Homo sapiens: one gene and its partners. The protein of the gene in region 2 interacts with the protein of the main gene of each other region in a pairwise test. Each region holds a gene or a part of one and is shown on either strand. Other genes may lie near its edges. The genes, in order: POU6F2, ASB13, ZMIZ2 and PANK2.

Evidence for each region.
Region 1: the proteins of ASB13 (region 2) and POU6F2 interact in binary tests that used the Homo sapiens proteins (3 or more experiments, as listed by UniProt).
Region 3: the proteins of ASB13 (region 2) and ZMIZ2 interact in binary tests that used the Homo sapiens proteins (3 or more experiments, as listed by UniProt).
Region 4: the proteins of ASB13 (region 2) and PANK2 interact in binary tests that used the Homo sapiens proteins (3 or more experiments, as listed by UniProt).

What each region holds. Positions count from the first base shown.
Region 1 is NC_000007.14:38,972,164-38,981,497, reverse strand, and holds the start of POU6F2 (POU domain, class 6, transcription factor 2), read right to left. Parts: upstream 3,590-9,334; 5' UTR 3,545-3,589; coding exon 3,440-3,544; intron 1,604-3,439; exon of another isoform or gene 1-1,603. UniProt on the Homo sapiens protein: Probable transcription factor likely to be involved in early steps in the differentiation of amacrine and ganglion cells. Recognizes and binds to the DNA sequence 5'-ATGCAAAT-3'. Isoform 1 does not bind DNA.
Region 2 is NC_000010.11:5,641,511-5,649,955, forward strand, and holds part of ASB13 (ankyrin repeat and SOCS box protein 13), read right to left. Parts: intron 7,595-8,445; coding exon 7,460-7,594; intron 1,044-7,459; exon of another isoform or gene 963-1,043; intron 452-962; coding exon 260-451; intron 1-259. UniProt on the Homo sapiens protein: May be a substrate-recognition component of a SCF-like ECS (Elongin-Cullin-SOCS-box protein) E3 ubiquitin-protein ligase complex which mediates the ubiquitination and subsequent proteasomal degradation of target proteins.
Region 3 is NC_000007.14:44,764,893-44,770,872, reverse strand, and holds the end of ZMIZ2 (zinc finger MIZ domain-containing protein 2), read right to left. Parts: intron 5,933-5,980; coding exon 5,864-5,932; intron 5,539-5,863; coding exon 5,294-5,538; intron 4,907-5,293; coding exon of another isoform or gene 4,872-4,906; exon of another isoform or gene 4,849-4,871; intron 4,710-4,848; coding exon 4,540-4,709; intron 4,453-4,539; coding exon 4,210-4,452; intron 3,358-4,209; coding exon 3,250-3,357; 3' UTR 992-3,249; downstream 1-991. UniProt on the Homo sapiens protein: Increases ligand-dependent transcriptional activity of AR and other nuclear hormone receptors.
Region 4 is NC_000020.11:3,891,742-3,900,186, reverse strand, and holds part of PANK2 (pantothenate kinase 2, mitochondrial isoform 7 precursor), read right to left. Parts: intron 1-8,445.

The DNA of each region.
Region 1 (9,334 bases), on a different chromosome or scaffold from region 2:
TTCTGCAATATTTGCAAAAGTCAGTCTATAGACGTGAAGCCAACAGGGACCCTCAGGCCTGTGCATCAGGATGGTGGGCTGCCTAAGTCCTCTGGGGACAGCAGTGCCAGAAGGAGTATTGGACACAGTGACCCGACTGTATGAGATGAGAAAAAACAAAAACAGGAGGTCCGCAGTACTGATGAACTAATCTGTCACTCACAAGCTCAGGTCTGCAAAAAAAAGAAACGAAGCACTAAACATGGCCATAAGAGATGGAAATGCAAGTCTTCATTTCTAAATGATAATCAAACCAACGATCAGAAACTGATTAACTGTGTAATTGAATTGAATTGAAAATCATCCCATGAATAACAATCCATCCTACCTTCAAGGGGTTAGGAAGCTAACTACAGGTAATTGCTATCAGAAATCTGATTTGATTTCCAAAAATTGTGTGAATGAACCAAGTTTCTTCATCTTGATATACTAGGCAGGGAGTTTGTTCTTCCAAGTACTAGACTGCTTAATTGCTTGCTTGGGGGAGGAGAAATCCTAGGGGAAAGGCATATATGAGCAATTTCTACTCTGTGAAGCCAGCGCTGTGTCCTGAGCTGGATCATGGCCAGAAACAGAAAAGTCTACTCTTCCCTACAGTGGAAGCAACTGTGGATATTTCATCCTAGGAGTGAATGAAAAAACCTAAAGCTCATACTTCATGGGAATCTTTCAATATTCTGACTGAAAACTGGTTATTTGCTCCTCCAACCCAAAGCCATCTAGGAACAGCACTCAGAACAGGAAAAAAAAAAGACAAAAATAATAATTATTCCAAAACGTATTTGAGCAGAAACAAACACAAACATTTGCATTATTAAATGGGCTTGTTCACACCTGCTGAGTAGATATAAGACGATATTTAAGACAAGAGCTAAAAAATAAACCATCCCTTTCTGGTTTTGAGTGACAGCAGAGCAATAAAAATTATTTTCACATTCTTTTCCCTATTGTTAGAAGTAATCATTTGAGTAAATACACTTATCTGTGCTGTAACTATTGAAATGAATCCACTTCAAATATGTATACCACCTTTCTTTTTTATATTTCTAGATATGGTTTCAATATAGACTTTCTGACTTTTATGGTATACATATAGGACAATATTCTATTCTTCTTTCCTTTTAAATACTTACTGTTTCAATTTCAAATAAAAAATCAGCATTCTAGTTTGTACATTTTAGCACAGAAATGTTTACAACCTTCAGCACAATTGCTTTTGTAATTTACTGACTTGGCATTTTGAGGCGTTTTTAACAAATTATGAGAAATAACACCTTCAGAAAGCATGTGACTACTTTGATGCAACTATTTACAATGTATTCATAAGAAGTCATTAACCTGTAGAGTTCTTAGACATGTGGAACCTTTAACAATTATACTAAAGAGTACATACAAAATACAGAGCTATGTAATAATAACTAATTTTAAATCCTGACAAATTAGAAGTTAAGCCTACTATCTGTAAAAATATGTCCTGATTCATTTTTTTAAGTATATACCTGAGCCTTTAAAAAGTATATGCCTTTACAATTGATTTCCAATAAACAATACTGAATAACAAACTACAAGTGACTTTCCTGATTTTTTCACCAGAAATATATAGAAAAAGGAAATCCTATTCTTATTAGAGATTGAAGTACAGTAATTCTGCACGGTATTAAGAACCATAACTATGCCATACAGAAGACAGGACCTGCAACCTAAGAAAAGTTTTATTAAACAGGACAAGACAGTGATCAGGGGCTCAAGTTTTATTTCAATATGCAAAAGTCATCTATTGTAACAGATATTTATTTCATTCCCTACACCACAATTATTTTAGCTATATTTGATATATTTGCTCGTCAGTGAGTACTTACATTGAAACAGGTATTAAGAGTATATAAAATCAGTTTATATATTTTCTCCTGCCTAGAGACTTCACTTTATATATGCTTATAGAACAAAAATTAACTTGAAAGTTTTAAAAAATATTTCTCTGTCGAAGCAAATATCTACTTCTTTTAAAATAGTGTGAGCCTGTGAAAACATGGTATTATGTATTTGACATTTTCCATCTAAAAATACATTATGAAGCAAGCATGCTGGTATTAATAAACCATGTGCTTTCAGAACCCTGAAGTGCTTTTCTATAATTTTGTTGAAAACAGAATAAGATGATATATTTTCCACCATGCTATTAACATAAAGCAAACAAATTTTATGTCATTGCCTTGCCAGCTTGTCTTGATTGGAAAGTGTACAAAAAAAAAAACTTTTAGGAGTTTATAAATATTCGTGACCATAGTCTGGTTTATGAGTTAACAATCCATAAGTAAACATAGATAACTTAGAAAAATTTAGTCAAAAATACATTACAAAAAAGAAAAGAAACCATGTATATTTCCTTTTTCCTTACCCCACCCCCATCATAGTCAGAAAAATCACCCTCCCTTTGCAGGAGGGTACTATCCTTCCTTCCACCACTTTAGTTATCTGAAGGCAAATGAAAATACAATGATCCTTTTCGTTTTCTGATTTAGCTTACAACGCAAACATTTTAACACAAACATAAACTACTGACTTCACGGAAAGCACCAAACAGAAAGAGCAAGATTCACTGACCCATTTGGAAGACAAAGACGACAGAGCGGGAAAGCTCTAAAAATCAGCTTGTGAGGCCTCTGAGAGATATTCTTCTGGCATTTCATCACAGCAGCCCCAGACCAGCTCACCTCCCTAGATACAAGGAGGAGGCACTAAATGGAGCTGTTTATTAAAGCTGCTGTGCTGGATTGCATTAGGAAGCGCGAGCAGACCACCTGGACCTTTCAAGATTGTGACAGTGTTTAATTTGCAGCCTGCCCTTCTGCAGCAGCCAAGACTACTACTACATTTACCGGGCTCAATCACACATTATCTGGGTTAGAAGTCAAGGCACATGTATTTATATATTTATATTTCCCATATGGAGAAAGGGAGAGAGGGAGAGAAAGAGAGAAGGAGAGAGCACAGTCAAAATAAAAATATTGAACAGCATTAGAAAAATATTAACTACTACCTAGGAAACCACACTTGATTCTCTTCTCGCACTTTCTTTCAGAGATCAAAATCCAAAAAGAAAGCAAATTTCTAAAATAGATTTTTAAGAAACATTCAGACCAAATTATAAATTAGATTTATTCTCCAGTGTTTTTGTTGTTGTTTTAGTTTTTGTTTAAAAGGATCGCATTGAAGTTTTAAGCTGAGGTTTCCCTGGTCAGATTTAATGGGTGCCTTTTGCCTTTCGCACTTTCAGCACTACACTGGCAGGTAGCTGAAGATACAGATAGAAAGATGGTACTGTAAATATGAATTATGTGAATCATATGGTGAGACCCTTGTGGAAAAAAGGGGAGTTGAGAAATGGCTGACTCCATACCTGACCAATTACAGCTTGCATGGTCCCCGTGTCCTGCTGCGCTGAGAGATAGCAATCCATCATATGTTGTCTTTGAAAAGGAGAATGGGGGTTTCTGGCATGCATCTGTCAATCAACTTCTGCACTCACAACCATCACCAAAAGCAAGGGGAAAAAAAGTCAAGCTGCTCCACCAAATAGAATGAAACCGTCATGTGACCTCCGGCAGACACGCACACACACATTCACTACCTCCACAGAGCGTAAGAATTTTCTGTAGATATGAAATGACATTGACAAATATCCAATACCAAGTAAATAAAGTGAGACAAACAGCTATTCACCAAAGACAAAAACATGGGCTGTAATCTTCCGCTAAAGGTTTAACAAACCTATGAGGATTGTTTTTAATGCTCTAGAAATCTATGTTTAAAACAAAACAAAAACAAAATGAACTATCTCAAATGAGTGTCCATTAAGACTTTGATTTTTGTGCTATTATATACATTTTTAAAATTACAGTTCATTGCTCTACTTTTCTTAAGGGGTCCCTAATGATTTTATTTTTAAAATCTCTAAATGACCTTTTGATAATATGCAGTTATCTCTGTTGTTTTATATAAGGACACCTTTTCAGAGAAGCTTGAAATGTGAACTGCTACATAACAAACACCCTGATATTTGTGAATTGGAAGTGGACATAGAAAATAATCCGTGTAAATGATGATGACCACTGTAATATAAAATATTCAAAGTGTGTAAATAGCAGTCACTAAACTTTTTATCTTCTGAAAGGTAAGGGATGATTTACTTGCAGCTCATCTAAACTGATGTAATGTGTTTTTAATGTGATGACAAGTATTTTAACTTTCTAAATTTAATTTTAACTATCTGATTCCTCACAATCTAGGGACAGATTGCTAATGCATTATGGGTCAGTTATTGTTAAGGGTGAAAAGAATATAACTTACCAACTTTTTAACCTTCTTAGGCTAAAGATCGGAACCTGACTTTCAAGACAATCCTACAGGTATTGTAAAGTTGCTCTCCAAAAACCCAAACCCATAAACACCATCCGTTAACTTGGTGGCTTTGTGGCAGTGAAGAACATTCGCATTTGCCTACTTTTTTTCTTTTTTTTTTTCATTTGCCTACTTTTTAACTGAAGTTCATTAGTTAGTATACTCTCCCTAACTTTTCAAAACAAATTTATGGGAAAACCTTGTGTTAATATTAAAATGGAGATTTTTTTCAAGGCTCTAAACTGATGACAGGTCGGGTAGCAATGAGAAATATTTAATACAGAATATATACTATTATGTATATTATTGCATAATACCCACGGCTTGAAAATTAATCAAAAGGAACTTCAAGTAAGAAAAAAAAAACAAAACAATTTTCAACATTGTTAAAGAAATCTTTAGGAGCAAAGAATGAAGGACCGAAGCGCGCGCGCACACACACACAAACACACACACACAGACACAGACACACACACAGTTAAATCAGCATCCCCAAATAAAATGAGACCGTGCACCAACTGGGTAGCCCTCCTGGGAGCTGAGGGCTAACTGAGGAAAGGCCCTTCTCAACATCATTAAATGTCCCGTCTGCGCTGAAGTCCTACCCGGGGGTTTCTGCAGTTATCCCAGATCAGAACCTCAGGCTTCCCATCATCTCCTTTGGCCAGGGAAGGGGAGGCCAGGGAAGCCGAGCCTGGAGCATCGACAAGGACTGAGCCAAACTTGCCCGAAACCTGCGGGCTCACAGAGGGCAGGGGGCGCGACTGCTCCTGGCATCGCCTTCTTGGGACCCCGCCTGGGCGGACACTAGACAGAAAGCCAGGTGACGGGACCAGTGGGAAGTTGCGGAGGAGGGGCGAGCTGCAGTCCCAGGCCGCAGCAGCCGCTGAGCAGCCGCCCCCGCTTTCTAATTCTTGGGGGGTTTGCAGCCAAGCCTGGAGCGCACCCCGGCGGCACCGCCCTCCTGGGCGCCCGGGAGCCCCGCGCCCTCCGCCTGCGTCCTCGGACTTAGGCAGCAGAGCCGGTGCGCGGATGGCGTGAGCCCCGGGGTGGTTTTGGCGTCCTGCGTCCTCTGTAGTGCAGCCTGGGTTCCCCACGCGCTGCCACCCGATCGGAGGCTCAACTTCCCCTGGGATCTAAGCTTCTTAAGCGCCTTCCTATGGGGCTGGGGGCTGGGGGTGTGGGTGGAGGTGGGTGGGAGAGGCTGGCCAAGCTGCAGTATGAGGCCGAAGACCTCCTTTGAAGCTCTGTCCCACAAATTATGGTGGTTCCGATTGGCGTAGGGACAACACTCTTTGCTTATATTCCAGTTGTTTACATGACCATCTGGCCTGTATGAATTATAATTATTACTAGCCAGCGTTGATGGGAGGCTGAGCCAGGCACTGTGTCAGACACTTCACAGTATGTTACATGTGAAATAACAACTCAGTGAGGCAGAGATGGTTATTCCCATTTTGCAGATTAGGCTCAAAAAAAAAAAAAAGGTAACAACTCATGATTAATAGGAATATGATTTGAACCTGCTCTGAATCCAAAACTGGAGCCCCTTCATATGAAACCACAGAGTCAAGTAACATTCACAATAGTGACTATCACACATGAAGCACCCACTCTTCCGCACATATTTATGGAACCTGTACTAGGTGCCAAGTACTGTATTGGTGTTAGCGCAAAACAGCACAGATTGCTTTAGAAACATAATAAAAATAAACCAAATGGTTAAAAGATTTATCTGGGGGAATTGTTTGATGCTAGCTGGTGGAACATGCTGACACTTTAGGCACCATAATGCATGGGCTCGGGTTGGGATGGACTCCCTCCCTGACCTCTCAGAGAGTGTGGCCTTGAGAAAGTGCCATTTCTCTGAGTCATGGATTTTGTGTCTTATACCAGTGATAATAATCCCTCAAGGGTAGTGTAAGGATTTGGGGAGATAATGTTTTGTGAAAGCTTATTGAGCTATACTGTGTAAGTGCCCAGCAAGTGTTAGTTATTTTCCCATATGGGAGGTCTATGGAGGGCAGGAAAGATTAATTCTCCTGGGGAAGGGAGGAAGCCTCTATGCAGATGGTGAAAAGATTTGGGTTGTGATATAAACAGAGGGCAGCTCCTGTTCAGGGCAAGGGAAACAGCATGAGCAAACCATCTGTTTCTCCATCAATGTGGGTGGCAGACACTTCTAAGGTTTGATTAATGGAAAACAAATGGGAGAGAATGGGGGTATGCCAACTAATATTGATTCCCATTCCCACAGTAGCATTTTAGGAAAGGAGACTCCTTGAGTGAAATATTCACCATTACCATCATCTCTCTGTTTTCTTACCTCCCATCAAATTTCCATAATATTGTGCATTTTCTGGCCCTCTAAAGCCCACTCCTTGATCGCGAAGCAGCTAGATATGTCCTTTTCCAAGATACTCTTGTAGGCAAGGCAGCAGTGATGGCAAAAGGTCACCGTAAGTCAAACCAAAAGAGGTCCCACCATTGCCCAAAATCCCAGTCCCTAGCTTCTCAGGATAGCGATGTCCTTGATTTCTTAAACCACAGAGGACACTGATAGATAAATGGAGGACTGGGAATCAAGATAAAGTGCAGAAGTTGGTCATCTCCATCTTCCTTTGTTTTGATGAATGTTTTGCAATGTTTAGGGATGAGAAGAGCTAACATACCTGGAGGCTTCTTTAATCCAAGGACCAAAAGCAAAAAAAAAAAAAAAGTGAACAGATGGTTCAAAAAGTCATCAAGACACTCTTACTAGACTTAGTATATTTCTACTTATGCTATCATAACATGTAGATGTAATACAAATCGATATGACATGCCTTTCTCTCTGTTGAGACCTGTTCTTTTTGTTGTAGTTGTTTGCTTTTTTGTTTACGGTTTTACTCTTTTTTTTTTTTCATTTCTCTGTTACTTCTTGCTTTTGCGTACATACCTTTCCTGGTTTTTAAAAGACTAACTTACCATTCCTCTGACTCGTTTTATTTTTCATTTTAAATCTCCCACCCCTAGTTTACTAGACTCCAGTCTTCTTCCTACATTAAGCATCATGGCAGAGCACTCTCTACAGCATGACTCACCACATAGCTGTGTCATCACGTGATTTTTGAGGCTGACATGGGAATCAGATGACGGGGGGACAAGAATCAACATACCCTAATCAAGACTCCTCATTGACTGCCCTTTCCCTTCTTCAGTTGGCTTTGCTTCTGCCCTTCTTTTCAAAGTCAGTTTTTCCTAGAATTTCATATGCTGCCATCAGCCTCTGGAATGATCCATTGCTTTTTCTATTTTTACCCCCACAACACTACATTTTTGTCTACTTTCAAGTTTTGTAGAGCATTTCTCTGGAATGGTCTTTTTAATCACCATCAGTTTCCTTAAGCAACATTAGGGGTCTCTTAATTCCACAGGACATTGACCAGTGTAACTGATCTATAACCTGGGATCTTTTGTTGTTATTTTCATATTTCTAGGGAAGTTGAGGACAGGAAAAATACCCAAAACAGATTGATTATTTTTAAAAGAGAAGGGGAGAAGGGAGGAAACCTCACACATCAAGCCCAGGGACTACAGAGTTGAGAGGGGCTTGACTTGGCTGAGCCAAGGCACCGTTAGTCGTGATGACCTATGATTTACAGTTTTCTTCTACAACATAATTTGGGAGCACTGGTTTTCCCCTGAGAAACAGTGACAAGATATTGCCTTTAAAATGAGCAGCTGAGAAGTTCAAGAGCCTGTTGACTCTGGGCAAGGAAGACCTGTGAATATACTAATGCATTATCAGACCTCCAACTTCGTCATCCTTTCTGCCAGGGGACTTTACCCAGGATAAAAATAGAAAAAGCCAACACATGGAGCCAGTTCCTTAATTTCCATTTGCCCTCTTCATGAAATGTTTTGGCTATAGTTATGCATTTCTAGGTCTTCTAGAATATATTTCTTCTGCTTGAATATGCTTGGAAAAAGGCATTGAAATGCTCCTGGGTTTTACTGTACTTTGGGTAGTTTTTGTGTCTGAGCCCAAATGTTAACACGTAACTTCTCATGAAAATTCTCCACAATGGTGGAGACACACATTCTGTTTCCTTACAGCCACAGTACACTAGAGGACTTTTTCTATTTCATGGTTATAGCTTCACATGCCTGAAAAAGCTAAATACCACTGTCCTTTTATTCCTTATATTGATAGATTCACAACACATAGACCTAGTTCCACCATTTTAAAGACAAACGTTTTTAAATGGATGACTGTACAGAACGAAATTCATCAAGAGAACTTCAAAACTTGCAGCTCTTACATTGGAAAACCCATATCTATATCTATTCTGGATTTCTTTGTAATCATCATCATCATCAATAACAATAACAGCAATAATAATTATGGAAAACATAGAAGAGGATCCCAAGATGTAGTTTGAGTACTCTTGAGGGTTCATGAGGCCCTTTCAGGGGGTCTGGAAGGACAAAACTTTTTCAAAATAACACTAAAATGAGATTTTTTCCTTTTTCACTCTCATTTTCTGAAGAGCATACAGTAGCATTTCCCAAAGCTGCATGATATGTAATTTCATAGCAGATTGAATGCAGAAGCAGACATGAGACTCCAATCATCTTCTAGTAAGTCAGACACTTACTAGAGATTTGCAAAAATCTAAAACAAAGCCACTCTTTTTACTAGATATTTTGTTTGTGGTAAACATAATTTTTTTCATAAAACAAATTATTTATGTTATGTAGCTATTTAAAATAAATCAGTAAGTAAACTTTTAATTTATTGGTTTTAATTTCTAATATAGTAAATATTAGTAAACATAACCCACAACACAAAGGCTTTTTGAGGTCTTAAATAATTCTGTAATAGTGTAAAGAAACTAAGACTAAAAAGTTC
Region 2 (8,445 bases):
AGGAGGCACAGGTCTGGTGCCCGGGCAGGTGTCGGCCACAGCTTCTGCTGCTCCACGCCACGGGCCACAGGGAACCCAGGGAGAGCTGGGGCAACAGCACAAACAGCCCCCGCAAAGTGCTTAAGGGTCTGTCCTAGCGCAGAGGACAGGAGCCAGGACTAACAGCCCAGCTCTCCGCGGAAGCCCACAGGGAGCCGGCACGTCAGGGGTCCAGGCTGAAGGCTGGAGGGGATGGGGTGCGCTCGGTGGGGTGTCTCACTTTCGTAGTACTCGAAGCACTTGGCGGGAGCGCTGCTGCTCCACGTGTAGTCAGACGGCTTCTTCCCGCGGTTGTCCCGGGCGTAGATGTTGCCGCCAAACTCGATAAGCATCTCGATGAGGTCAACATTCTTGACCTTGGCCGCGTGGTGAAGGGCAGTCTCATGAAGCTTTGCCGCATTCACGTTGGCCCCTGGAGGTCAAGAGTGCAGAAGAGATTTCACCAAGAAGAGAACTTGAAGTCAGGGGGACAATCAGGTCCGTTTCGTCACACAGCACGGTGGCAGAAGCAATCCCCACCCAGAAGACAAAATCAGGACAGACTCTACCGTAGCTTTCAAAAATGTTTTTCAACATCCAAAAGCAGGAACTACTTACTGTCCCCACTCATGAGAGATAAAGGTAGGCAGCAATAATAAAGAAATAACTAGAAATAGAACCGAAAAGAAGAAAAATAAAACGAAAAATGTCCTGAGTTAAACAACCGTTCTAATGCCCTATCAATCTGCCTTCAGGGGTCCTGAGATTTCCGGAAGCTCAAACCAGAGCCACTCAAGCACTCCCGCCTGGCCTCCAGCACAGACACACACTGCTTCTTCCTCTTGCGGGCCCAGGACGGAGGCTCCAGAAATACTGGTTGAATGAAAGAATAAATGTTCCTTAACAATGCATATTCTTTTACAAAAGGAAAACAGATAACGTACCCAAAACAGTAGGCAATTCAGAGAAGAGAGTAAGCTCTGCACTCCTCAACTTTCTCACGATAAGAGCAGACATTCATCAAGCTGATTAAAAGTAAAGGTAAAAAAAAATTTTTTTTTAAAAAAAAGAGCAGACATTCAGAAAGATGCAAGGAATTAGTAGCTAAATATGGCTGGTTTTGGGTTTTTTTTTTTGAGACAGAGTCTCACTCTGTTGCCCAGGCTGGAGTGCAGTGACATGATCTCGGCTCACTGCAACCTCCGCCTCCAGGGTTCAAGCGATTCTCCTGCCTCAGCCTCCCGAGTTGCTGGGATGACAGGTGTGCCACCATGCCCGGCTAATTTTTCTATTTTTTGTAGAGACGGGGTTTTGCCGTGTTGGCCAGGTTGGTCTCGAACTCCTGGCTACGGGCATGAGCCACCACACCTGGTCACATATGGCATTTTGCAACACACTAAAAAAAATTTTGATAAAAATATGATTTTTGTAACACATCATTCTTAGGGCACAGCCATCACTGATCCGATACAATGGAATCCCCCAGGGCTTCAGAATTCTTTTGAAAGAAAATGCCATTTTATTCGAAGTCTGTTCCTCAAGTAACAAAGGAGGTTATAAGAGAAAACAAATAAAAGAGAAGTGTTTTAAAGAAGCCAAGCAAATCGCCCAGCATCAGTAAAATAATTCGCCAAATGATAGATTCAAACCACAAACATAAAGTATTATCAAAAGTGGGATTTTAAAACAATCAGACACTAGCATGCCATCACTTCCCGACAGTCTCAGAGGGTCAAAAGAGGAGCTGAGAGGTGGAACGCTTTTACATTTTCTAGTTCCTCTAGCTCAAAAAGCATCGGAAAAATCCCGCTTTCTGCTTTAAAATATTTTAATCCCCTAAAAGCACATAAGAACCATGCTCATAACAGCATTCGTGGAGGGATCCTAAGAACGCCCCAGCCCTCCAAAGTGATGACATAATTTAAGAAAGTTCTTTCCACTTCCCGCAGCCAAAACTCAGAAGTCAGAACAGGAAAAGGATCTCTCAACTAGGAAAAATGCTAACTTATCTATGTCCTGAATTTGGCAGAAATGTACTACAAAAAAATAATATTCAAAAGCAATAGATTAAAGAAATATTTCCCCACAATTCAACCTCTCTTTCACATAAGGGGTTTTCCTCCAGTATAATGTTGCAATCATAACACGAAGTAAATTTTAACACTAAACATATGCTTGTAATGAAAAACAAATTGTACCATCCACAGAATCTAAAGTTCAAGTAGCTTTCTCTCATGTCATTAATTCTGGCAATATTCTTGCCAATTGGGAGAGAAAGAGATGGTCTCTATTTTAACAAAAGAAGAAAAACAGAGAAAGAGGCCCAAGGGAGGCACAGCTACTCTCTCACGATCAGGGAGAAAACCATGGCTGGAAAGAGCTCTAAAAATCACGCTCCCTGCCACGCTCCACAGACGAGGCCTTGGCCAGGGGCTCTTGCAGGGAGGCAGCCTTCCCAATGTACATCTTTTCAAAATGTGTGTTTGGCATCATTTGATTGGGTGGAAGGGAAGGAAGGTGAATAAGGAAGGAAATGAAATTGTGAATAAGGGATTGAAGGGAAACACCAGGCCAGGGGTGCAGGCAGCTACATGGATGGATCCTGAAAGTATAGCACTGAGTGAGCCAAGAAGAGAGTCAGAGATGAAACTCGATCAGCTATGTTCATTAAAAATATATGCTTGGGCCAGGTACAGGGCTCACGCCTGTAATCTCAGCACTTTGGGAATTCGAGGCGAGCGGATCTCTTGGGCCCAGGAAATCGAGACCAGCCTGCGCAACATAGTGAGACCCTAGCTCTACAAAAATTTAAAAATTACCCGGGGGGCGTGATGGCACACATCTGTGGTCCCACCTACTCTGGAGGCTGAGGTAGGAGGATCACTTGAGCCCGGGAGGTTGAGGCTGCAGCAAGCCACGATCGTACCACTGCACTCCAGCCTGGATGACAGAGTGAGGCCCATAGTGAGAAAGAGAACATAAACAGGTACTCGTTAGAGGAAAACAGGGCCAGACACGGTGGCTCATGCCTGTAATCCCAGCACTTTGAGAGCCTGAGGCGGGCAGATCACCTGAGGTCAGGAGTTCAAGACCAGCCTAGCCAATATGGTGAAACCTCGTCTCTACTAAAAATCCAAAAATTACCTGGGCGTGGTGGTGCACATCTATAATCCCAGCTACTCAGGAGGCTCAGGCATGAGAATCGCTTGAACCAGGGAGATGGAGGCTGCAGTGAGCAGAGATCACACCACTGCACTCCAGCCTGGGTGACAGAACGAGACTCCATCTCAGAAAAAAAAGAAAGAAAGAAGGGAACAGATACAGAGGAAAGAAGGAAGAGAGAAAGAGGGTAGGAGAGGGAAAGAAAGTAACTTTGTGTGAAGCAAGGATGGTAACATACCTTGAACTGAGAGGCAAGAGAAAGACTGAGGCAGAGACAGAGACACAGAGACAGAGAGAGACAAAGACAGGGAGCCAGGAAACAAGCAGGGAATTAAAAGCTCTGAACTTCGTGCTTCAGAGAAAAGGGGTCAACACAGGCTCATTACCAAAATCCTGCTTTCAACACAAAATAGGATTAAAGTGGATTCAGAGAACCCGTGGCCAGTGACGTGACGGGACCGCCTAAGACCTTAGCACGCCAAGACTGGCACAATCCTGGAACATAAACACAAATAGCTCAATAGGTGCTTGTTACCACAAGAGAAATTGAAAAAAAAAATTAAATTTAAAAAATTATAATTAAAAAATTTTTTAAAAATTAAACAACAATTTTAAAAAAATTTTTTAAATTGTGCCAGGGCCAGTGCTAAGAACAAAGGTGGAAGCAGGACCGTCCTCAGGGAGCCGCTTCCGAACACTCCTGGCAGAGTTCAACATTCACTGTCAGTGATCAGATTAAAAATTACTTCACCATCATAACCGGACTTTCACCCTCCCCAGCCCTCCTCCTTTGCAAATACAATCTGGTTCCTGGACTCGCCTCACTGCCTACAAAGAACAAGAACAACGGTCTCCACGTCCCCCGTGGGGTGCAACGTGGCTCTGCCTCACAGCTCAGCTCTCAAACCGCACATGAAAGCACCTGCACTCATGTGGGCCCCGACTGGTTCAATCCCTCTCCCCTCTCCACAGTAACTGGTTCAAATGATCCAGGCTTGAGCCGATCAGAATTTGGCAAAGTTTGGGCAAAGGGACTGGGGAGGGGTGCAGGAAAAGGGACTTTCCACTCTTCTGTTTTTCTAGAGACACGGTCCCTGGCTTTCCTTTGGTTTCCCGAGGGATCTGTGACCTGACCCCAAAAGATCAGAATCACTACTTTTTAAAAATCTGTTTGTGAGGACGTAGGGGATGCTGTTGTTTCTCTCTCCTCTGTATGTTTGAAATTTTCCGCAATGAAAAAATGGTTTCTAAGAAGAAGATGATGATCCATCTGCTCTCACAAGGGGTACTAGAGGAGACCACCCAAGAGTAGGATGGGAACCAGGAATCCCGCGTGGAGCTGATGGCTGGATGCTACCCACAGCATCGAGCCAACACCAACAGTCACTGTGCGGAGGCTTCCCCAAGAAAGCCACGTTCACCTCTAACTCCCCAGGGGCATGCAAACTCCCGGGGAGAGCTGTGGGAACCCCACTTTAGGGCGACAGTGGGCCTCACAGCTGCCCCTTCCTTTCCAGCCCCCACCCCCGACTGTGCTGCCACCTGGTAATGTGGTGGGGGCGGGAGCAGACCTGACTTCAGCTCCAGCGTGGGTCCCGCCTAGTCCAATCCCTCTCCCCTGACCACAGTAATTAGTTCTAATGACCCAGGCTTCAGCCCATCAGAATTTGGCAAAGTTTGGGCAAAGGGACTGGGGAGGGGTGTGTGAAAAGGGATTTTCCACTCCGCTGAAAGAGCCTCCAGAAGGCTTAAAACAGGAAACGTCTGGCGTGTAGGCCTGAAGCCACTGCAGCCCCGTGACCTTGCTCAGGGAGGCCGGAGGCTTAGGATGAAGCCAATACTGAGGAAAGCAGAATCGCAACGTTCAAAGAAACTGAGGCCTGGGTGACACCACGGAACCTCCGGTCCAGCCGCCCCTAATCCTGCTCTGCGTCTCAGCCCTGAAGTCACCTGAACTAGAAATGCCCGCCATTGTTTACCAGTGGAAGTGGCTTCCTGTTACTCGCAAAGGTGTCCAACTGACATGAAGTCCTAACTGATACAGAAAGGATGTTTGCTTTAAACACTAAGTTGATCCCTTTCCCTACAACCACACCAAACAGAACGAAGGTAAAAATGGAACTCGTGTGTACTGAGCTCATAAAGGCTTGATATGAACGCACTGCGCTGTGTTCATAGAAACGGATCCAGCTGCCAGAGGAACGGCTCGGCTGGAAACGCTTACACCTGCTTCCAATGGAGATACTTCTAAGACAGTGTATAAAAAAATTAAAAGTACCTCAACAACTATTCCTACACAAAACGAATCTTTTCCACTAAAAAGACTGAAAAGTGGCACATGAAAGTGAGTAAGATTCTCCAATAAAAAACTACACATAACTAAGCTCAAATGGCTGTCATCAGGGGGAATTCATGATCTTCCTGTTCCCAAACAGGTTTGTTCTTGTTGTTAAGAGAAGGGGACTTGCTATGTTTCCCAGGCTGGCTGAAACTCCCGGGCTCAAGCAATCCTCCCGCCTCAGCCTCCCAAAGTGCTGAGACTATGGCTGTGAGCCACAGTGCCCAGCCATCCTAAACAGTTTTGTTTTTATCCTACACTACACCCAGAATTTGGATAAGATGATGAAACTAAAATTTTCCCTCAACAAAACATTTAAGTTGGGTTGATAAAAACCCTGTGCTAACAGTCACTTTGGCTAAAACTTTTGGTATAGACAGGTCCTGAGCCTAATCCTCGATTGGTTGGTCTTTTTGGTTTTGATTTTTTTCCCTCTTTGGGAATCTCAATCCTGAGTCTTTTCGAACACCCGACAATGGCCTGGATTCCAAATGCTCCATATTCTCCTAAACGCTGCCAACTCCACTTCCCATTACATCCCCTTCTCTCTTGGATTCAGGCAGCAACCTCACCAGGCAGCTGTGGGGACAGTGGCCTGTGATCTCTAGAAATAATCATTGGCATCTGTTGAGTACCTACTAGGACACACCAGGCACCGGGGAAACATCCTCAGTTCTCCCAGCAACCTGCAGCATAGATTCTTCCAGTGTTACAGATATGTAAACTGAGGCCCGAGGTCTCAGCTGGCAAGTAAGAGAGCCAGCCTCCAACCCTGGTCCCTCTGACTCCTCTACCCAGCTCTCTGCTAGGCACAGTAAATACCTGTTCAGGTAAATGCTCGTGCAAGTAAACACCTGCTCAGGTGAACAGCCTTGCAAGTATATACCCATTCAGGCAAACTTCTCAGATAAATCCATAAATACACACTCTGCAGGTAAACACCCACTCAGGCAAACACCCACTCAGGCAAACACCCACTCAGGCAAACACCCACTCAGGTAAACACCTACTCAGGCAAACACCCACTCAGGTAAACACCCACGCAGGCAAACACCCACGCAGGCAAACACCCACTCAGGTAAACACCCACACAGGTAAACACCCACTCAGGTAAACAACCACGCGGGTAAACACTCACGGGGGTAAACACCCACTCAGGTAAACACCCACGCAGGCAAACACCCACTCAGGTAAACACCCACGCAGGCAAACACCCACTCAGGTAAACACCCACTCAGGTAAACACCCACGTGGGCAAACACCCACTCAGGTAAACACCCACTCAGGCAAACACCCCCTCGGGTAAACACCCACGTGGGCAACACCCACGGGGGTAAACACCCATGCAGGCAAACACCCACTCAGGCAAACACCCCCTTGGGTAAACACCCACTCAGGCAAACACCCACTCAGGTAAACACCCACGCAGGCAAACACCCACTCAGGTAAACACCCACTCGGGCAAACACCCACTCGGGTAAACACCCACGCGGGCAAACACCTACTCAGGTAAACACCCACTCAGGTAAACACCCACGCAGGCAAACACCCACGCAGGCAAACACCCCCTCGGGTAAACACCCACGGGGGTAAACAACCACGCAGGTAAACACCCACGCGGGCAAACACCCACTCGGGCAAACACCCCCTCGGGTAAACACCCACGCGGGCAAACACCCCCGGGGGTAAACACCCACGCAGGTAAACACCCACACGGGCAAACACCCACTCAGGCAAACACCCACTGGGGTAAACACCCACGCGGGCAAACACCCACTCCGGTAAACACCCACGCGGGCAAACATCCACTCCGGTAAACACCCACTCGGGTAAACACCCACTCGGGCAAACACCCACTTGGGCAAACACCCACGCAGGTAAACACCCGCTCGGGCAAACACCCACTCAGGTAAACACCCGCTCGGGCAAACACCCACTCACCTGCATTGAGCAGCACTTTGACACAGTCCAGATGCTCCCGGGCACAGGCAACGTGCAGAGGGGTCCCAAAATGGCAATCGTGCGCTTCCAGATTGGCCCCGACGTCAATAAGAAGCCTCACACATTCGGAACTCCCTTAAGATAAATGGAAAAGGGGGGGAATGTCCTTGAATACGGACACTGGAGACAACAAGCACACAGACGCGGCAGGGGCAGCAGCCTCCATCCTTGGTGCAGGGCAGGGAAGCCAGGCAGGCCTGCGTCCCAACCTAGGGAGGAGTTCATGACCCGCATGGCCCTCAGGAAGCCAGGACACGGCTCTGCGCCCCGCTGAGGACGGAGGGCTCAAGGCAGTGGGAGAAACGGGCCTGGCCGGCTTCTTGCTGTGAGAACAGAAGACATGGGGCACCACCTAGAATGGGTCAGGGAAAACTCCCCCGCTGCCCCCCTGCCCTGTGTCTACCTGCGGCTGTCAGCACTGAGCCCAGCCTCCCAGGAAACCCCCCAGACTTTCTTATGCAGGTCATCCTCCTGTGCACCACGGCAGCCGCCTCTCCTGCCTCTTTTTTTTTTTTAGACAAAGTCTCATTCTGTTGCCCAGGATGGAATGCAGTGGTGCGATCTCAGCTCACTACAACCGCCATCTCCCGGGTTAAAGCGATTCTCCCACCTCAGCCTCCCAAATAGCTGGAATTACAGGCATGCACCACCGTGCCCGACTAATTTTTTTGTATTTTTAGTAGAGACAGGGTTTCACCATGTGCCAGGCTGGTCTCAAACTCCTGACCTCAGGTGATCCGCCCACCTCAGCCTCCCAAAGTGCTGGGATTACCAAGGGCATGAGCCACAGCGCCCGGCCTCTCCTGCCTCTTAAGTGGCTCCTCTTCCTGGGTCTGTAATGCGGATTTGGAGCGGGGTTCCAGGCCCCCCATCCTCCCGCCCCTGCACATTCCGTCTAGGCTCCAACCTTTCCGTTCACTCAATTA
Region 3 (5,980 bases), on a different chromosome or scaffold from region 2:
TGTGAGCCACTGCACCTGGCCCTGTTCAGATTTTCTATTTTTCCTGGGACAATTTTGGTCATTTGTATCTTTCTAGGAATTTTTTTGTTGTTGTTTTGAGACAGAGTCTCACTCTGTCACCCAAGCTGGAGTGCAATGGCATGATCTCAGCTCACTGCAACCTCTGCCTCCTGGGTTCAAGTGATTTTCCTGCCTCAGCCTCGTGAATAGCTGGGATTACAGGTGTGAGCCACCACGCCTGGCTAATTTTTGTGTTTTTAGTAGAGACAGGGTTTCACCACTTTGGCCAGGTTGGTCTCGAACTTCTGACCTCAGGTGATCTGCCTGCCTCGGCCTCCCAAAGTGCCGCGATTACAGGCGTGAGCCACCACACCCAGCCAAGATGTCGCATCTTTTTAAATGTTGGCATTTGCAGCTATAAATTTCCCTCAGAGCAGTTTTTGCCGCATTCCTTAAGTTCTGGTATGTTGTTTTCATCCATCTCTATTTCCTAATTTTTCTCGTGATTTCTCCTTTGACCCTTTGGCTGTTAAAAAGTGTGTTCAATTTCTATGTATGTGTGAATTTTCATTTTCCTTCTGGTATGGATTTCTGGTTTTATTCCATTGTGATTGGAGAAGGTGGTTTGCAGGATTCCGATCTCTAATTTACTGAGACTTGCTTTGTGCACTAACGTGTGGTCTGTCCTGGAGAACGTTCCCTGTGCACTTAGAAACGTGTGTTCTGCTGCTATTGGGTGGAGCACTGTTAAGTCTGGTCAGCCTTTTGGTTTTTATGTAATACTTGGCACATTCACAAGAAAATGTGTGAAACAGAAAGTACGACAAAGTGAAACCCACGAAGCCACCACTGACCCTGAGGTTCAAAACCTCCAGCATCTCTGCTCTTCCCTAAGCACAGCTCCGTCCCCTCCCCACGGGTGAGCACTGTGTTGTACTGACTCCCTGCCCTCCCTGATGACTTTAGCACCTGGGTATGAATTCCACACATATTTGGTTTTGAGCTTTATAAAAATGGCATCATACTGTATGAACTGTCTTGCTTTTTCATCCCACGTTGTTTCTGAGAGGTGTTTGTGATGGAGCACAGGGCCACGGTGCCCATGCATTCCTCAATCATTTCTCCAGTCTTCTGAGGATGGGCTTCTGGGTTGTTTGCAGCCTTTTGCTTGTCCCAGTCTCCTAGTTTCTCCACTCCATCCGGGAGCATCACGTTTGCAACAGGCAGGGCAGGTGGTGCATCAGATGTCCAGGACACAGTCATTTGACACCCAAGAAAGGAGGGCCTGGGGCCTGCATCAGGCCATGGCTGAGTGGGACTTTGCCAGGCTGTCTCCGCACCCAGCGACAGGACTGTGCGTGCTGCTGCTTCTTTTGTTTCCTCCACTTCTGTTCCCTCATCCAGAGAGGGCGGAAGAGCTGGAAACAGAGGCTTTGTCAGGGAATAAGGAAGCCCACCTGTGTGGTCCCAAATGTCGCAGGGGCAACGCTCACACCAGATACCTCCCTCCTCCTCCTCCCTGCAGCCTCTGGGCTCCCACAGACAGATGCCCTCCTCTAGTGCCTCCAGGGGCAGGCCTTGGCCGCCAGCCTGAGGATGCCCAGCGCTCCCCTCCTCCCCTAGGTTCCTGTGTTCCCCCAGTTCTTGCCTCTCCTGCTGGCTGGCTGGGAAGGCCCTCAAGGATGGGGCCCAGGACTGGAGGAAATGGTGACCCGGACCCCCACCAAGCTGGACAGGCAGATGGTAGGCAGGACACACCTCTGCAATCTCTGGGAAGTGACAAGCAGAGGCCTCCCAGGGACAAGAGCTGAGAAGGATGAGCCCCTGGCTGGGCTGGGGCTGCCAAACAACTGTCTCAGTGCCCCAGGGCAAGCCCAGATAAGGTGACATAGTGGCAAATGTCTCTCCTGGGCAAGCCTGGGATGCTTCACAAAACAGCTCTTCAGCTGAAGCCAACTTGGAAAATTCCAGGGAAAAGGAAATTTACTATGGGGCGGGAATAGCCGAGCCTTGGCTTGAAACATCCAGAGCTCAACCTGGGGCCCCAAAAGCCACTTGAAGGTCGACCTGGCCCCCAGGTCCTGCACAAGCTTTGCAGGCACAGCCCAAGCTTTAGGCAGGTCGCTGGCTTACGAGGAGAAAATAGTCCCTGGGAGCACAAAGGAGGGACTCGGCCAGGCCCACCAAGAGGGAGTCCTTTAATAGAGATCGGCACAGACAGGAGACACAACAGCCCAGGCGCCCTGCTCGCACAGGCTGGGGCCCTGAGCCAACAGATGCAGTGGCTTCCTCCTCCCCCACCTGGGTGTGGGCCCATGGGGTGGAGACAGAGAGGTGGCTTTAAAAAACACAGCTGTACTAATTCTTCACTTTCACAGAGAAGGGGAACTTGGGAGCGCAGCCCGCTAGAGAATCTTTACACAGAGCTGAATCTGAGAGCCCACCCACCCACCTCGGCCAGGCCGAAGCTCACTGTCCCCCACCCATTGGAGGTTCCTCCCTGATCTGTCTGCACATGGGAAGGAGCAGAGCGCGCAGGGAGACCGGGCTGTACAACAGGAACATGCTGGCTGGACAGCTGGCTCCCCTCTCCCAGCTGTTAGTGTTTCTACACTATGTACATTGTTGTGCTTTGTAGCTCCCCCACCCCGAGGCCTCTGCTTGAAGCTGGGGTGGGGAGAGGAACCTGACACCACACACGGCTGGGCTGCCAGAGCTCCAGGCCCCCAAGAGGCTGCCATTCAGCGAGGTTCCAAGAGCTGGACTGCTGGGCACAGGGGCCACTGGAGCCAAAGGCCCAGGGGACAGAGCCAGCCCTGCCAGATGCCCAGCTCTGCCCAGTGGAGGAGTTGTTGAAACAGAAGGATCAATGCTGGACAAGAAGCAGGCTGGGTGGGGGCAGGCAGGGGTGGAAGGACAAGGTGTGAGGCTGTGAGACCAGGGGCGTGAGATGTGTGTGTGGACAAGGCTGGACAGGGCTGGGCAGGGGCACCTCAGCAAAAACCGTTCTGCAGCAGCAGGCTTGGCAGAGGGAGGTGGCAAGGGCTGCCGGCCTGGGAGCCCCTCCCATCGAGCACAGGGCTGCTTCCAATTCAGGGGCAGGGCTGGCGGCAGAAGGCTCTGGCTCCAGGTGTGTTTTGGGGGAGGTTTGGGAAAGACCACCGGGTGTCCCATGGGGCTGGGCATGAAGGGCAGGGCTGTGGTGACATCTGTGAGCGTGTCCCCGCCGGGCTTGGGGTAAACACAGGATCAGTTGTTCTCAAACAGAGAAAGCAGGTCGTCATTGTTGTTCGTAGGGAGGTCGGGTGGGCCCAAGTAGGACAGTAGCTCATCAGGGTTGGTCAGTTCCGGGAGCAGCTGAGGACAAAGTGAACTCTGTTAGCAGCTTTGGTCACTGACTGGCCACACCTGAGTGACCATCCTGTCACCACATCCCGGCCCTGTCTCCAGGCACAGTGGGGATGCTGAGCAGCCCCTCCTCACACACAGGCCGGGTGCGGGGCCCCACCATAGGCCTGCATGTGCTCAAAGAGGCACACGCCACCCCCTGGGACCTCCCTGCAAGGTTGCTCTGGGGCCAGAACAGCTGGCAACATGCTGTTCAATACCACCAGGAAACGGGATGTGAGGGAGTGCAGCCACTCCACACTCCCTCTGTGCATCAGCCTGCGTGGGGATCCCCACCGTGATGCCCCAAGGTGAATGCTGGTGGTGGAATTCCATGCCCCTAGGATTTTCTGCTTGGAGCTGTTCTTCCTAACTTTTTCATGTTGAACTTCTAGAATGAGTTTCATGTTGAACTTCTAGAATGAGTTTCTATTATGGTCCAGGGACAGTCAGTTCTGTCCTTCATGTACTGAGTTTGCACTCCCATTCCACCTGTGAGTCAAGACCCAGGGCTACTGAGCAAATGGACAGACGAAATTTGACTCTAAGGACCGTGCTGTCAGCTTCCAGTGCAGTCTCCTCTGAGACTCTGCGTCCGCCCGTACGGCATCCAGGCCCCTCATGAACACAAATGTGGTACATCGCATCCCACCCGCAGCTACTCCAGGTATCTAATTCATGAACAAAAGCTGCATTTAGTTGACCTTATCTGACCGGCTCTCTGAGGGGTCACTGTCTTCCCTTCCAGAACGCACCTGGAACAGACACACCACCTCTAGCCCTGGCTCCCACGCACTCCCCCGCATGGGGCCTGGTACTCACGTCCAGAGCTGGTTCTGGGGCCTCCCCGGCTCCAGACATGCTGGGGGGCCCCATCACGCCTGTGGCAGGACTGAAGGCCAGTTCACCCGTAGGTCCTAAGCTCGCTTGGCCCAAGGACTGCCGGGACGCTGGGGGAGGGTTTGAATGGTGCAGCTGGGGACCTGGAGGGGCCCCAAGGTTGGAGGTGTGTAGTCCTGGTGTCCCAGGATTGTGAGTGGGGTCCAGGTGACCTGCTGGTGCCATCTGAAGACAGAGAGAAGAATTTGTTAAAACAGCTCAGGGGCTCCCCTGGGGAGACAGGGCCCCTTGGCCTCTCGGCTTGGCACTGACCTGGCTTGGGAGGCAGGCGGTAGACTTCTCTGAAGTCAGGAGGCTGCTGGGAATGTCAGACTGGTAGGAGATGGGGGGTGGTCCCGGGGTGAACTCAGCAAGGGTTGGGGTGCTGGGCGTGGTGGGTGGGAAGGACTCAGGGAAAGTTCCAGGCCCCAGGAAGCTGGAACCTGTGAGAGGAGAGTCGGGGCCTGGGTGAGGGCTGGGGAAGGCCACCGCTGGCAGAGGAGCCAGGAGGGAGGCTGGCTGTGGCATGGGTGGGACTTGCAGTGCTCACCCACAAACAACAGCGGGTTTTGCAGAAGTCGCTATTTGGAAAAGGGCATTTCTTCTCATTGCTGCCAAGGGAATTGGCCTTGGGACATTCCTAGGAGTGAAGGTCTCGGAGGTTATAGGAATGGGAGCAGCCACAAACAAACGCACCACGCGTGTGAGGTGGGTCCCAGAGGGGGGCCCCAGATGGGGCCAGTCCTGTGAGGTGTTCCAGCCAGGAGCCCCTTAATCCAAACGGGGAAGGAAGGGTGGAGGCCCCACTGTCTGTTTCCTGGGACCATAGCTGAGACTGTGCCTTCACCGCCACGTCCCTGAGATGGGAGGGGCTGGAGGTGCCCCGCGGCATGTTTTGTGTGGCAACACTGATAACCTAGGTGTGTGACCTGCATAGCCACATTCTTGCAGGTGAGGAGACTGATCTGGGGAGAGGAGCCATATGCCCAGGGTCATCTGAGGTTCAAGGCTAGCCTGCTGTACTTACCCTGGCCAGGGTAGTCGCTGGGGGCAGGGACTGAGGGGGGCTGCAGGGGGGCAAAGGGGGCAGCGCCGGGGCCCAGGGCGGCGATCATCTCCATCACGCTGGGCATGAGCACGTGGGCGGGGCTCACGGTGCGGCAGCGCTTCAGTGCTGGCCCATCCGGCTCCTCCTTGATGTGCATGTCAGGCTTCACGGGCACTGGCTTCCAGCTGCACGTGGGGTCGATGGTGATCTCCTCATAGTCAGAGCTGGGCAGGGACAGGTGGGGAATGGTTACCTCCTGGCCTGCTGCTGGCCCGGCACCCACTGCCCCTCCCAGCCCTGGGCTGTTTCCAGGCAGGTTCCCCCACTCAAATGCTTGCTTCCACCCAGCACCTTCCACATCGAGCAGGACGCTGGGCCCAGCACCAACACTCAGGTAGGACACACACGCTGTCTCTGGCCTGGAATCCAGCCTGCTCCATGCCGGAAAAAGGCTGGAAGGCTGCACTTGGCAAGGGACATCCCCCGACATGTCCTGGGGCTGCCCTCCAGTGGCCACAGATGCAGGGATCACAGGAAGAGGATGCTTACTTCTGAATGTAAATCAGGATGCCCAGCATGTACTGGTCCACCTCCAGGCCCTCCAGCAAAGCTGTCTTGCTGTGGGGAAAAAAAGGGACACAGCTCAGAGACCTTGCACAACCCTGT
Region 4 (8,445 bases), on a different chromosome or scaffold from region 2:
CTGAATTTATACACTTGAATTTAAATGACTAAAATAAATGCCTGGAGAATGCTACTCCACTGTATCAAGCAAATGTTAACAGCAAGCAGATACAATACTAGCAGACCAAACAACACAAACAAAAAAGCATTAAGAAGGGACAAAAAAAAAACTCTCTCATGTGCATAAAAAGTACAACTGATGGGCCAGGCACAGTGGCTCACGCCTGTAATCCCAGCACATTGGGAGGCCGAGGCAGGCGGATCACGAGGTCAGGAGATCGAGACCATCCTGTGAATGGTGAAACCCCGTCTCTACTAAAAATACAAAACATTAGCCGGGCATGGTGGCAGGTGCCTGTGGTCCCAGCTACTTGGGAGGCTGAGGCAGGAGAATGGTGTGAAGCCGGGAGGCGGAGCTTGCAGTGAGCCAAGATCGCAGCACTGCATTCCAGCCTGGGCAACAGAGCGAGACTCCATCTCAAAAAAAAAAAAAAAAAAAAAAGTACAACTGATGAATGTAATAGCCATGTTCCTTATGCACATAACACATACTTCGAAAACACTAACAGAGAAACTGACACATCTACAAGTCAGTATGAGAATGACACAGACCTCAGGAATTTGTAGATTGCACACACACCTACAAAATTATGGTAGAAAGAGAATTTTAATATCATGGCTAATAAGGTGGATCTAGTAAACACAAATAGAACTCTGGGGAAAAAAAAAAAAAACAGCCGGATGTAATGGCTCACATCTGTAATCCCAGCACTCTGGGAGGCCAAGATGGGTGGACCACCAGAGGTTAGGAGTTCGAGACCAGCCTGACTAACATGGTGAAGCCCCGTCTCCAATAAATACAAAAAATTAGCCGGGCATGGTGGCACATGCCTGTAATCCCAGCTACTTGGGAGCCTGAGGTAGCAGAATCACTTGAACCCAGGAGGTGGAGGTTGCAGTGAGCCTACACTACATCACTGCACTCCAGCCTGGATGACAGAGCGAGACTCCATCTCAAAAAAAAAAAAACCCGGCTGGGCACGGTGGCTCACGCCTGTAATCCCAGCACTTTGGGAGGCCGAGGCAGGTGGATCACGGGGTCAGGAGTTTGAGACCAGCCTGGCCAAGATGGTGAAACCCCGTCTCTACTAAAAATATAAAAAATTAGCCAGGTGCAGTGGTGGGCACCTGTAATTCCAGCTACTCGGGAGGCTAAGGCAGGAGAATCACTTGAACCCGGGAGGCAGAGGGTGCAGTGAGCCGAGGTCGCACCACTGCACTCCAGCCTAGACAACAGCAAGTCTGTTTCCCAAAACAAACAAACAAAAAAAAACACTCAAGACCAGCAAGACTGTTTCCCAAAACAAACAAAACCATGCAAACATTCCTTTAAAAACCCATAAAGCACTCACAAAAATTAACTGCACTAGCTTAAAGAACTTCAAATTCCAAAGAACAAGTCACATTCACTTACTGCAAAACTTCAAAATTAGAAATTAATCCAACAAACAAAGAAATAAATCTATCTACTTTGAAATTTTTAAACTATTAACTCTGGGATTAAAAAGGAAATCAAAACAAAATTTATTTTTAAATGAATGACAGTGAGAATACAATATATAGAAACCAATAGGATATACCCAAAGTAGTACTTAAACGGAAACATCTAGCCTTACATATTTATTAAATATACTCAGCAAGAAAGCCTAAGGGCGAGGCAGCTCATGCCTATAATCCCAGCATTTTGGGAGGCCGAGGCGAGTGGATGACCTGAGGTCAGGAGTTCGAGACCAGTCTGGCCGACATGGTAAAACCCCATCTCTACTAAAAATACAAAAATTAGTCAGGCATGGTGGTGGGCGCCTGTAATCCCAGATAATCAGGAGGCTGAGGCAGGAGAATTGCTTGAACCCGGGAGGCAGAGACTGCAGTTAGCCAAGATCGTGCCACTGCACTCTAGCCTGGGTGACAGAAAGACTCCATCTCAAAATAAATAAATAATAAAATAAAAAATGGAATCTAGTTGTACAGTAAAATTAATAGGCCATAGCCAAAAGAGATTCTTCTCAGTAATGCAGCAATGGCTTTTACATTAGAAATTCCAATTAGTAAGATGAAGGGAAAAAAATCATGATTATCTCAACAGATTCCAAAAAACAAAATCCAATATAACCAATTAAAACCAAGAGGTTTTTTTTTTTGAGATGGAGTCTCGCTCTGTTGCTCAGATGGAGTGCAGCGACAGACCTCAGCTCACTGCAACCTCCGCCTCCCAGTTGTTCAAGCGATTCTCCTGCCTCAGCCTCCCGAGTAGCTGGGATTACAGGCTCGTACCACCATGCCCAGCTAGTTTTCATATTTTTAGTAGAGACAGTTTCACCATGTTGACCAAGCTGGTCTTGAACTCGTAACCTCAACTAATTCGCCCACCTCGGCCTCCCAAAGTGCTAGGATTATAGGCGTGAGCCACTGCACCCAGGTTTTGTTTTCGTTTTTGTTTTTTTGAGAGACACAGTCTCACTCTGTCATCCAGGCTAGAGTACAGTGGTACAATCACCAGGTTCAGGCTCACTGCAGCCTCAACCTCCCTGGCTCAAGTGATCCTCCCACCTCAGCCTCCCAAGTAGCTGGACTACAGGTGCAGGCCACCACAACCAGCTAATTTTTTGTAGAGACGAGGTTTCACCATGTTGCCCGGACTGGTCTCAAACTCCTAAGCTCAAGCGATCCACCCGCCTCAGCCTCCCAAAGTACTGAGATTACAGACGTGAGCTAACACATCCAGCCTAGAGCTCACTGATAAGAGAAGGCCCCTGCCTTCTAGTTAGTGAGTCCTGGCCATTAATTTTCAGATATTTCAGTCTATTCACAGCCCTTAACATATTTCCTGATATTAAGACCTCCAAGGTACTCAGTCTAGACAACCTATACTTGACTTAGGCCACATTTCAAAACGTATGCAAAGCACAAGGTCCCATAATAGGTCTCAACGACTGAAATCCTTTAAGAGTGTGGAAAAACAAAGTTTTTCCTCTGCTCTCACACCACAGCAACGATCAACACAGAAGACTTCTGTGAGCCCACACACAAAGCAAGTAACCAATTCTGCAGCACTCACCAGCTGGGTGCCCTCCAATGCAATTCCAACGACTATGTACCTGGAGATAGCATCATATGCCACAGGTCGAGGGCTAAGTCCCTCAAGACTGCTCCTCCACCACACCTCTGCCAGACACCAGTTGCCAATCTGGGCCTCCAGAACTTCTGATCAACTGGCTTCAAGTTGGAGTTTGCATGACCCCTCTTTGGTTTGGATTAATTTGCTAGACTGGATCACAGAACCTAAGAAACACATTTACTGGTTTATTATAAAGATATTTCAAAAGATTCAGAGGAAGAGACGCATAGTACACAGTATAGGGGAGGGACACGGAACTTCTGTGCTCTCGGGCACTGCACCCTCCTGGAACCTCTTGTTTGGCCATCCAGAAGCTCTCCAAACCCTGTCCTCCTGGGTTTTTAATGGAGGCTTCATTAGTAGGTATAATTGATTAAATCACTGTCCACTGGTGATCAACTTAACCTTCAAGCCCCCACCCCTCCCCAGAGGCTGGAGAGGAGTGAAAGTCCCAACCCTCTAATCCTGTCTTGTTCTTTCCATGACTAAGTCCAGAGGCTTCCAGCCATCAGTTAACTCCTTAGCACACAAAAGGACATCACTGTGGAGTTTCTAAGGATTTCAGGAGTTGTATGCCAGGAAATGGGCAAAAGACCAATATATATATTTCACAACATCACACTTTCCAATGGGAAATACATAGTTCAGTAGGCTGGGCATGGTGGCTCACGCTTGTAATCCCAGCACTTCGGGAGGCCAAGGCAGGCGGATCACGAGGTCAGGAGATAGAGACCATCCTGGCTAACATGGTGAAACCCCGTCTCTACTAAAAATACAAAAAAAAAAAAAAAAAAAAAATTAGCCAGGCGTGGTGGCGGGCACCTGTAGTCCCAGCTACTCAGGAGGCTGAGCCAAGAGAAAGGGCATGAACCCAGGAGAAGGAGCTTGCAGTGAGCCAAGATCGCACCACTGCACTCCAGCCTGGGCGACAGAGCAAGACTCCGTCTCAAAAAAAAAAAAAGAAACACACAGTTTACTTTTAAAAGTGTGCTCAATTTTCCAATATTATGAACTACACTTTTACCAGACCACAGATGGTTAATGACATCGCAAATCCATGTCTAGGCTGTTCTAGGAAAGCAATATCTTGGCCTAACATTGAAAGAGGTACTTTAATAATTATTCTTATTCCCAAAATAGTTTTAAACTCAGGGACTAGATACTTATAAAAGACCACATACCGTAAAATCAGCAAATTCAACAACAAATTCTACATTCAGGAAATATAAACACACAAAATGTAACGAACTACTAAAAAACTGAGATGGGTTTCATTTTTAGAAAGCAAACTTTAAGCCGCAATTTAGAAAAGTTTTCACATCCCAGTCAGTCTTACCTGAACAGTGCCTGAAGATACCCCAAATTATGAACCTGAGAAAAGCTCACAAGGCTACAAACTTTAAGTCCAAAAAACATCACCGCTCTTTTAAATAATCAAAATAGCCATTCTTTTCATTGCCTGATGCTCTACAATAGCCTAGTCTATCTTCCTCCTCCTATTTTTTGAAATGTTTTGAGAAAAAAAAAAAGAAAAAAAAAAAAACGGAGACAGGGTCTCCCTCTGTCGCCCAGGCTCGAGTGCAGTGGCATGATCATAGCTCAGTGCAACCTCAATCTTCCGGGCTCAAGCAATCCTCCGGGCTCAAGCAATCCTCCTGTCTCAGCCTCCCAAGTAGCTGGGACTACGACCATGTGCCACGACATTCTGCTAATTTGTTTATTATTATTTATTTATTTATTTATTTATTTTATTTGAGATGGAGTCTCGCCCTGTCTCCCAGGCTGGAGTGCAGTGGCGCAATCTCGGCTCACTGCAACTTCCACCTCCTGGGTTCGAGTGATTCTCCTGCCTCAGCGTCCTGAGTAGCTGGGATTACAGGTGTGAGCCACCATGCATGCCCTTTTTATTTTTGGAGAGACGAGGTCTGGCTATGTTGCCCAAGCTGGTCTTGAACTCGTGGTCTCAAGTGATCTTCCCACCTCAGCCTCCTACAGTGCTAGGATTACAGAAATGAGCCAGCATACACAGTCAGCAAAATATTTTTAACAACATACATCTCTTCCTGCTATGGTCTCCCCAGATAGAAGGCAGGGACACCAACACTAAACAACCATATTATCCAACTGCATGATTCTTACACATGGCCCCTAAAGTAATATACTGTACCATTTTACACAGCTGCATAAGGGGACGATTTTTAGTCCCTGCTTATTGCTTAGTATTTATTATATATCTAAGAAGACAGGCTGTATTTACTTTGGTTCCACTTAAAGTTGATAAACTGGCCAGGCACGGTGGCACACACCTGTAGTCCCAGCTACTCAGGAGGCTGAGGCAGGAGAATCACTTGAACCTGGGAGACAGAGGTTGCAGTGAGCCAAAATCCTGCCACTGCACTCCAGCCTGGGCGACAGAGTAAGACTTCGTCTCAATAAATAAATAAATAAATAAAAAGTTGATAAATCAATAGGTTAAAAAACACCTTCAGGCCAGGTGCGGTGGCTCACACCTGTAATCCCAGCACTTTGGGAGGCTGAGGTGGGCAGATCACCGGAGGTCCAGAGCTCAAGACCAGCCTGACCAACATGGAGAAACCTTGTCTCTACTAAAAATACAAAATTAGCCAGGCGTGGTAGCGCATGCCTGTAATCCCAGCTATTCGGGAGGCTAAGGCAGGAGAATCACTTGAACCTGGGAGGTGGAGGTTGTGGTGAGCCGAGATCACGCCATTGCACTCCAGCCTGGGCAACAAGAGTGAAACTGTCTCAAAAACAAACAAACAAACAACATCTTTTCGGTCAGGCACGGTGGCTCACACCTGTAATCCCAGCACTTTGGGAGGCTGAGGCAAATGGATCACCTGAGGTCAGGAGCTCAAGACCAGCCTGACCAACATGGTGAAATCCCATCTCTACTAAACACAAAAAATTAGTTGGCCATGGTGGTACATGCCTGTAATCCCAGCTACTTGCGAGTCTGAGGCAGGAGAATTGCTTGAACCCAGGAAGCAGAGGTTGCAGTGAGCCAAGATTGCACCACTGCACTCTGGCCTGGGCAACAAGAGTGAAACTCCTCTAAAAAAAAAAAAAAAAAAACAAAAAACAAACAAAAAAAAAACTCCCATCTTGCCTCTCCCAATGGGCCACAAAGCTATAGCAATCTAACATTTTTCCTCAGCTCCCAGGGGTCAATCCGTCCTAATTCCCTGAAGCTGAAATGCTGAGCCTAATAAAGGCAGCCTAACAGGGCCCCGGCTCCAGTTCCATACTGCCAACAGCAACGCTCCTCGGAAAGCCAAGAAAAAATGATCCATTTTCTAGGCTAGTGTTGTCAAGCTACAAACAAAAACTGTATTATGAAGGTTAGATTTGTAGGAGTCCAAAATCAACAAGCCCCAAAGGTCTCCCTGGCATGCTACAACATGCCTTGCGAGTCATCTTCAAAGGATAAGTTTGTTGTCCACACTACTGTGGAGCACTCTGATCACAGGGCTTCCACACCTTCTGCACACCTGCTGCACATATGCTCAACACCTGGAGCCCTTGATAAAAATGTATGTTCTCTTGTTACATGAGTGTCTACATTTGCCAAAATTGTACATTTTACTCTATTTAATTATGCCTCAATAAAATTTAAAATATAATTTTAGACCCCTTTGCAGACCTATATCATGCAATGGTAGGTTGAGGGAAAGTTTTAAAAACTTGAGAACCACAGCTCTGGATTACATCACACATACCTTCCCCCACCCCAAAATGTGGACCAAGAACACTGGATCTGAAGTCAAGACACCAGGAATCAAAACCCAACTCCATCACTAACTCACTATATGGCCTTGGACAAAAGGACAATTTCACTGAGCCTGTTTTCTCATCTGGAAATTGGGGATAAAAAACACCTACCTCACAGGATAGCTATGAGACTTAACCAAGATGCTTATAAAATACTCGGCATAGTGTCCAAGACAAATAAGCACTCAGAAAATGGTAGCTACATTACCATCATTAGCGTCTTGGTTTCCATCATTTTAAAATCAATCTTTATTTGGTATTTCTTTCAGCCCTGCGAGACATACCCCCCTCCCCACCTGATGCAAAACTTTTGAAGAACTTAAATATACACATGCCTAGCCTCATCGCTAGGGATTCTGATGCAGTAAGTCTGGGACAAGGGCCGGTTTGGGAACTACACTGCTCTAGGAAACGCGTGACAGAACACGACTACAACCAGGACCACAAGAATGCCTAAGATAACCTGAATAGCTCCTTCGACTTTCAAATGACAACTAGTATCTATCTGCACCTTTAGACAAGTAGTGCGGTATCAGAGTAAGGCTTTTTTTTTTTTTTTTTTGAGACAGAGTCGCTCTGTCGCCCAGGCTGGAGTGCAGTGGCGCGATCTTCGATCACTGCAACCTCTGCCTCCCGGGTTCAAGCAATTATCTGCCTCAGCCTCCCGAGTAGCTGCGACTACGGGCACGCGTCACCACACCCGGCTAATTTTTTTGTATTTTTAGTAGAGATAGGGTTTCACCAGAAAGGTGGCACCATTCCATACCCAAACCTCCCAACAATAAATAAAAAAGATTTAGTCTTAGTTGAATTCTCTCAGAGATAAGACTGAAGTATACTCTAGGAGGGTTCGGCAGTCAACAAGCTGCTTCTCCTTTTTTTTTGTTTTTTTTTTGAGGAGTCTCACTGTATCATACAGGCTGCAGTGCACTGGCACAATTTCGGCTCACTGCAACCTCCACCTCCCAGGTTCAAATGTTTCTCCCACCTCAGCCTCCTGAGTAGCTGGGATTACAGGCATGCACCACCACGCCCAGCTAATTTTTGTATTTTTTAGTAGAGACGGGGTTTCAACATGCTGGCCAGGCTGGTCTCTGGTCTCGAACTCCTGACCTCAGGTGATCCACCCGCCTTGGCCTCCCAAAGTGCTGGGATTACAGGCATGAGCCACTGCGCCCAGCCTGCTTCTCCACCTAACAGGGGCACCCCTAGATAGTACAGAAGAAACAAATGGAAGGAAGAACAATCAGTATCCTGTTCATTCCTTTAGCAGGTCTTATACTGGAAAGATGGGTTTTCATGATTTATCAGCCAGAGAAGATAATGAAGGGAATCACGACAAACATCAAACATCAAAACAAAATATAAATCCTATAGCATGAATATGTGTCTACTTAGTTCCCTAAAATAAGTTTCAAAACTACCTTAATATAATTCTCCCCACCCAGTGTAAACCGGTTTTTCTGAGTGTGGTCTTTGAGTCACCTGTATTTG